2 linked regions of the Homo sapiens genome follow. The protein of the gene in region 1 purifies or fractionates together with the protein of each later gene. This does not show direct contact. Each region holds a gene or a part of one and is shown in the gene's direction. Other genes may lie near its edges.

What was found.
Region 2: the proteins of TUBGCP2 (region 1) and SRSF10 purify together in Homo sapiens (affinity purification with mass spectrometry; one large-scale study listed by BioGRID and IntAct). This does not show direct contact.

Annotation. Positions count from the first base shown.
Region 1 is NC_000010.11:133,277,849-133,281,529, reverse strand, and holds the end of TUBGCP2 (gamma-tubulin complex component 2), read left to right. Parts: intron 1-93; coding exon 94-257; intron 258-1,628; coding exon 1,629-1,764; 3' UTR 1,765-2,895; downstream 2,896-3,681. UniProt on the Homo sapiens protein: Component of the gamma-tubulin ring complex (gTuRC) which mediates microtubule nucleation.
Region 2 is NC_000001.11:23,970,223-23,974,034, reverse strand, and holds part of SRSF10 (serine/arginine-rich splicing factor 10), read left to right. Parts: intron 1-2,022; coding exon 2,023-2,185; intron 2,186-2,408; coding exon 2,409-2,462; intron 2,463-2,595; coding exon 2,596-2,893; 3' UTR 2,894-3,812. UniProt on the Homo sapiens protein: Splicing factor that in its dephosphorylated form acts as a general repressor of pre-mRNA splicing. Seems to interfere with the U1 snRNP 5'-splice recognition of SNRNP70. Required for splicing repression in M-phase cells and after heat shock.

The DNA of each region.
Region 1 (3,681 bases):
GGGAAAGGACACCGGCCTGCTGGGAACAGTGTGGAGCCAAGAAGGCCCACGGTGGGGGTGGGCATGGCTCACGCACCCCGGCTTTCTTTCCAGCACCTGGCTGAGCACGCAGACACTGTGCAGCTGGTGTCCGGCTTCGAGGCCACCATCAACAAGTTTGACAAGAACTTCTCAGCCCACCTGCTGGACCTCCTGGCCCGGCTGAGCATCTATAGCACCAGTGACTGTGAGCACGGCATGGCCAGCGTCATCTCCAGGTGGGTGGGCGCCACCCCGGCTCAGCCCTTCCTCAGCTCAGTCCAGCGCCTGCCCCTGCCCAGCACCGCCCTGGCTCAGCCCTTCCTCAGCTCAGTCCAGCACCTGCCCCTGCCCAACACCGCCCTGGCCCAGTGCTGTCCCTGCTCAGCCGTCCCCCAGCTCAGCCCAGCACCTGCCCCTGCCCAGCACTGCCCTGGCCCAGTGCTGCCCCGGCTCAGCCTTCCCCCAGCTCAGCCCAGCACCTGCCCCTGCCCAGCACCGCCCTGGCTCAGCCCTTCCTCAGCTCAGTCCAGCACCTGCCCCTGCCCAACACCGCCCTGGCCCAGTGCTGTCCCGGCTCAGCCTTCCCCCAGCTCAGCCCAGCGCCTGCCCCTGCCCAGCACCGCCCTGGCCCAGTGCTGCCCCGGCTCAGCCTTCCCCCAGCTCAGCCCAGCGCCTGCCCCGGCTCAGCCCTTCCTCAGCTCAGCCCAGCATCTGCCCCAGCCCAGCGCCACCCCAGCTCAGCACCTGTCCCTGCATCCAGGCCCCATCTCCCCTGCACCCTCCCCTGGTCCACCTGGTGTAGCCTCCTTCAGAAGGTGGGGCAGGTCTGTGTCCTGGTGCTAGTGCTGGTCATATGCCACTCCCTGAAGTCAGGCTAGCCCAGCTCTCCCTGGGGTGTGACATTCTGTGCAACTGGGCTGCCCCATTGGCACCCTGCGGCTGTGTGTGTCCTGTGGGGCTGATCAGGCCTGGGTCAGCTTCCCTCATGCTGCACTAACACCTAGCCTGGGGGAAAGGGCCAGGTGGCCAAACTGCCAGCCTGGAAGGGGTGGTGCCCTTGGGGGTGCTGTCCTTGGGAAGGTGCCTATTTGTGCTTTTGGACCACCCTGTGCCCTGTGCCCCCCACAAATGTTCTGATTTTCTGAGCAGGGATTTCTGAGGCCACCCTGCATTGAGAACCACTGCTTGGTTCTCCAAGCCCCTGACACCTCAGGCCCCATTGCTAGGCCCTGTTGGGGTGATGGGAGCCCCAACTTTCTGGGGCCAGGAGAGAAGAAACCTGTGTTTGTGCCTTTGAGCAGGACTGAACAGGACTGAAAACCTTCCTGTGGAAACATTAGTTAGGAGCGTGCCTCACCCTCACCCCTGCAGGGCCTCTTATGGTCTCTGTAGCTGAACACTTCCCCATGGTAGGAGCAGGGCTGCTCAGGACGGACCCGCAGAAGGAGTGTGTGCCCCAGCTCCACTGTCCTTCCTCACCCCTGCTGCCCAGCACGCACCCGCAGAAGGGGTGTGCACCCTAGCTGCACCGTCCTTCCACACCCCTGCTGCCCAGCATGCACCCGCAGAAGGGGTGTGCACCCCAGCTCCACTGTCCTTCCTCACAGGCTTGACTTCAATGGTTTCTACACGGAGCGCCTGGAGCGCCTGTCTGCAGAGAGGAGCCAGAAGGCCACCCCCCAAGTGCCTGTCCTGCGGGGGCCCCCGGCTCCTGCACCCAGGGTCGCAGTCACCGCACAGTGAGCCCTGGCTGTGACAGGAAGGAAGGGTGTGGGGTCAGCAGGGACTGGTGCAAATGGGTCCAGAATTTTCAAATCGAATGCTCTGTGTTCTGTCTTTGCAGTTTAAATATAAAGCAGGAATGATTGACTCAGCTCACTTTGTTTCTCAAGGCGCTGGGTTTCGTTTTATAGAAGCTGCCCAGGCAGGGTGGATGTCTCCCTGGATTTGCTAATCTGTTTGCTTTTTGAAATTACACTATCACCTTTTTGGGTGTTTTTGGCCTCAAAGTGGAAATACATGGTGTTTAAGCCAGGAGCAAGCAAAGATGCATGTGGGGTAAGATCCAGGCCTGGTGTCCACATCTTTCCGGGTGAGCTGGGGCCGGGCTTCCTGAGGTCTGTCGGAACCGGGACAAGCCTCTGGAAACGGTCAGGGAGTTGTGGAAACCCACCGGGCATCGGGTGTCGGGTTTGCTTTGGCCCCAGAGGCAGCCCCGTTCCTTCTCCTGAGGACTCACCCGCCTCCACGACCCTCCTCCTGCTGCTGCTCCAACTGGTCCAGGGCAGGAGGCCACAGACAGGGCCCTCAGGCACCCTGGGAGCCCACACCTCCCCCTCCGTGGGAGTGGGTCGAGGGGCAGGCTCTGCTGCTGGCTGGAAACCCCACCCCGCCCTATCCGGTACCGCCTTGTTACGTAGAACTTACTCAGCAGACTGACACCCAATCCCCCTCGGGCGATCATCTGCCCTGTCTTCCCACCTCCAGGGCTACAGTGGGCAGCACCGCCATCCCCAGTGTGACAGGGCCCTGGGAGCCTCAGGGCTGCCCGGCCAGGTTGGTCTGCTCTGGTTACATTCTGGCCAAGCTGCCCCTTCCTGCTGACCTGCATGTGTATTGTTGTCACCTTCAGCTCTCAGCACCTCGGCCCCCTTGGGCAGTGAGGAAGGGCCCTGGAGGCGAGGTTGGGAGAAAGGATAGCTAGAACAGGATCCTGCGGGGAACAAGGGTTGTGGGCAGCTCTCACCCGGGGCTGCCTCACTGAGAGCACCGCCGAGTGGGGGTGGGGGTGTCCAACTCTCCAGCCACAAACCGCTTCCTCCTTGTCTGCAGGCTGTGCAGGTCTGGCCTGTGAGTAAACACATTTATCAGCAACCCAAGCTGTCAGTCTCAGTGTTGTGCAAATGCCGGACTGGTGAGCAGAGGAGCCTGCTAGCTTTCCTGCCTGGCCCCGAGGCCCAGAAACCCCTGATCTTGTGTCCTGGGGTCTGGGAAGCCCTGGGCCTTGAGAAGTGGGGTTTGCAGGTGGTGATAGGAGGAGGGGAGGGAAGCCTCCAGGGCTGTGGGGTTCAGGCTCCCAGACCCCCCGGCACCTGCTGAAGAGGAGAGCTGTGTTCTGTGGGATTGGGTGGAACTTCCTCAGCGCGGGAGGAGCCTGTTCTGGCCCAAGCTGGTCCTGTCTTTTTAGGAATAAATCCCTGGTAGCTCAGCGTCGGCAGGGGCCTTGCTGTGCCTCTGATGTGGCCAGCGTGCCGCCTTTGCACTTTGCTGTTGAGTAACTTGCACCATGAGGTCAAGGAAGGGAAGTGTGATTGCCAGCTGGCCATTGTTCTATAATAACAGGGTCACCTGCATGAGCTCAGGCACAGGCCAGTATCCCCAGCCCTACCTGGGAGCCTCTCGGCAGCCTGGGGGACCTCGTCCTGTGCCACACAGGCAAGCGGACACACCCCCAGGCAGCAGAAGTCACCTGCGGCCCAGTGCCAGCCCTTGCTTTCTTGCTTTTCATGCCATTCACATTAGGGTAAGAATGGCTTTGAGACAAAATGTGACAGCATCACTCACGCCAGCTTAGATCCTCCGGGTTCCCTGTCCTCCCAGGATAACGTCCGAGGCCCCGGCCTCTTCTTGCCACTGCCCCTTGACCTCTGTCCTCTGCCC
Region 2 (3,812 bases), on another chromosome or scaffold:
GGGCAACAGAGCAAGACTGTGCCTCAAAAAAAAAAAAAAAAATAGCTGCTGAGGAGAGGAGGAGCTCTTGAGTACTCAATGCAAACTATTGGAACTCTAGTTCTTGAGTTGGGTAATAGATTCCTGGTTATGCATTGTGTTTTTTATATGTACTCCAATACATAAAGTATCTGCTTCATTGAATTGAATGAGATAAGAATTGAAGTGTACATAAGGCATTTAGGAATGCCTTATTATTCTACTTAGGGTCTTAGAACTGTAATATTACTGCATGTTGACACTGCACATTGTTCATAGGCCACCTATAAATATTTTGTTAATTGTGTTCTTAATGAATGGAATCTGTGGTGGGATCATTCCAAATCAGCATATGGTTCAGTGGTCATTTTTTTCAGCCATTTGAAAATGTAAAATATGTGGGTGTGGTAGCTCACGCCTGTAATCCCACCACTTTGGGAGGCCTAGGCGGGAGAATTGCCTGAGCCCAGGAGTTTGAGACCAGCCTGGGCAACAAAGTGAGACCCCATCTCCACAAAAAATAAAATAAAAAATTAGCCAGGCTTGATAGTGCACACCTGTGGTCCCCGCTAGGCAGGAGGATCACTTGGGCCCAGGAGGTTGAAGTTGCAGAGAGCTGTGTTTGCACAAGTGCACTCCAGCCTGGGTAGCAGCAAGACCCAATCTCAAAACAAAAAGGCACTCACTTCCATTTGGAGTTTTTAAAAATCCTTTTATGGTATGGATTCCCAGTGTCAGAACAGTTACCAGGTCTTGGCTGATAAACTAGATGGTGAGAAGACTTTGAAAATAGTTGGGGATATTAGTATTATTTTTAACATAAAACAGTCTTCTAATACACTTTCTTGAAAATAAATACGTGCCTTTTTCAAGATGAAAATTTGCAGTTACCTCAACCCAGCCTTGGCTAAATCACGTTCTGCATCTGCATCTCACACCAAAACTACAGACACCTCTAAAACAGACTCCAGGGCTGGGCACGGTGGCTCAAGCCTGTAATCCCAGCACTTTGGGAGGTCAAGGCGGGCAGGGGCAGATCACCTGAGGTCAGGAGTTCAAGTCCAGCCTGACCAACATGGAGAAACCCTGTCTGCACTAAAAATACGAAACTAGCCTGGTGTGGTGGCGCATGCTGTAATCCCAGCTACTTGGGAGGCTGAGGCAGGAGAATCGCATGAACTCAGGAGACGGAGGTTGTGGTGAGCCGAGATTGCGCCATCGCACTCCGGCCTGGGCAACAAGAGCAAAACTCCGTCTCAAAAAAAAAAGACTCCAGGCTGGGTGCGGTGGCTCACACCTGTAATCCTAGCACTTCGGGAGGCCGAGGCGGGTGGATTATTTGAGGTCAGGAATTCGAGACCAGCCTGGCCAATATGGTGAAACCCTGTCTCTACTAAAATACAAAAATTAGCCGGGTGTGGTGGCGCGTGCCTGTAATCTCAGCTCCTCAGGAGGCTGAGGCAGGAGAATGGCTTCAACTGGTGTGGGGTGGAGGTTGCAGTGAGTTGAGATTGCGCCACTGCATTCCAGCCTGGGTAACAGAGCAAGACCCTGGTCTCAAAAATTAAAATAATTAAAAAAAAAAGACACCAAAACACATACACACTTTTTTTTTTTGGAGACAGGGTCTCTGACCCCCAGGCTGGCGTGCGGTGGTGTGATCACAATTTACTGCAGCCACCAACTCATGAGCTCAAGTGATTTCCCCCCTTAGCCTCCTGGGTAGCTGGAATACATGTGCAAGCCACTAGGCCCAGCTAATTATTTTTTGTAGAAATGGCATATTGCTATGTTGCCCCAGGCTGGTCTCAAACTCCTGGGCTCAAGTGATCCTCCCACCTCAACCTCCCAAAGTAGTGGGATCACAGGTGTGAGCCACCACCCGGGTCATACATACTCTCTTTGGGATATAAGAGGGGATGCAGGGATTTTTTTCCCTATTTATTGAGGGCTTTAATACTGTTTTTAATATTTTTAAATATTTCTGTTCTTTGTATTTCCTAGCACCAAATCAGATGAAAGCCAAGGAAGGGAGGAATGTGTACAGTTCTTCACGCTATGATGATTATGACAGATACAGACGTTCTAGAAGCCGAAGTTATGAAAGGAGGAGATCAAGAAGTCGGTCTTTTGATTACAACTATAGAAGATCGTATAGTCCTAGAAAGTAAGTGTGCTGTGTAGCACAGTGATCTGTTTAAAAAATGTATTTGTTAGCATTTAATTTTTTTTTACTATTTTGTATACTTTTAATTATATACATTGAATGTTTCATTGAGACAAAAAATACTGTAGCATTTTATTTTAAAAGTTTTATGGTTTGCTTTTAATTAGAAACTTTGCCTCTATGAATAGATATTTGTCACTGCTTTTTCTGATATGCTTTTTAGCAGTAGACCGACTGGAAGACCACGGCGTAGCAGAAGCCATTCCGACAATGATAGGTAAATAACTTTGCTTTGAAAAAGACTCATGTATTTTTTAATTTCAGAGTGAACTTTTGCTCTAAAAATAACAAATTTGATTAATATAGAATCTAATTTTTACTCTAATTATATCTCTCCTCTGTTTTGAAAGATTCAAACACCGAAATCGATCTTTTTCAAGATCTAAATCCAATTCAAGATCACGGTCCAAGTCCCAGCCCAAGAAAGAAATGAAGGCTAAATCACGTTCTAGGTCTGCATCTCACACCAAAACTAGAGGCACCTCTAAAACAGATTCCAAAACACATTATAAGTCTGGCTCAAGATATGAAAAGGAATCAAGGAAAAAAGAACCACCTAGATCCAAATCTCAGTCAAGATCACAGTCTAGGTCTAGGTCAAAATCTAGATCAAGGTCTTGGACTAGTCCTAAGTCCAGTGGCCACTGATAGTATAAACCATGGTCATTTTTAGGCATGTATCATTCATTTACTCATAGTTTGGTTTACTTAAATTATCAGGAATACAATGTTGCAATGATGCTTAAAAAACACTTGTTAGTTTTCCCTGTACCAGGCAATGGTTATAATTAAAATGATATGCTGTTGAGAAGCCACTCTTAAGAGTCCAGTTTGTTTAATGTTATGGGCAGCTACCAATTTGTGGTGTCTCTGTATATTTTTGTAAAGATTCTCATTTTTTATGCTTGAAGTATTTGGTGAAAAGATGTTGGTTGACCATAATTTGCAACATTGTCTCATTAAAAATAAACTTTCATATTCATATTTGGTAGAACTGTTAACCTAGAAATGTAGCTTGCTAATAAGATAGAATGATACAAAAGTGAAGTAGTAGCCACAGTACAACACTGACTGCTCAGACACATTTAGGTTCAGGGTGGACCTTTATGTCTTGTCAAGATGTCTAGGCCCGGCTGGGCGTGGTGGCTCACACCTGTAATCCCAGCACTTTGGGAGGCCGAGGCGGGCGGATCACGAGGTCAGGAGTTCGAGACCAGCCTGACCAACACGGTGAAACCCCGTCTCTACTAAAAATACAAAAATTATCCGGGCATGGTGGCACATGCCTGTAATCTCAGCTACTCAGGAGGCTGAGGCAAGAGAATCGCTTGAACCTGGGAGGTAGAAGTTGCAGTGAGCCAAAATCACGCCACTGCACTCCAGCCTGGGCAACAGAGTGAGACTCCGTCTCAAAAAAAAAAAAAAACCGGATGTCTAGGCCAATGATAATTATTTTTGATGCAGTGTGGATTAGTTCTTTTGTTAACCCCACTGTCTTGGGGAATGATGCCAGCTGGGAAATTGAGTTTTTGACTGAAACATGGAGCCTTCACTGCTTTTTTTCTGG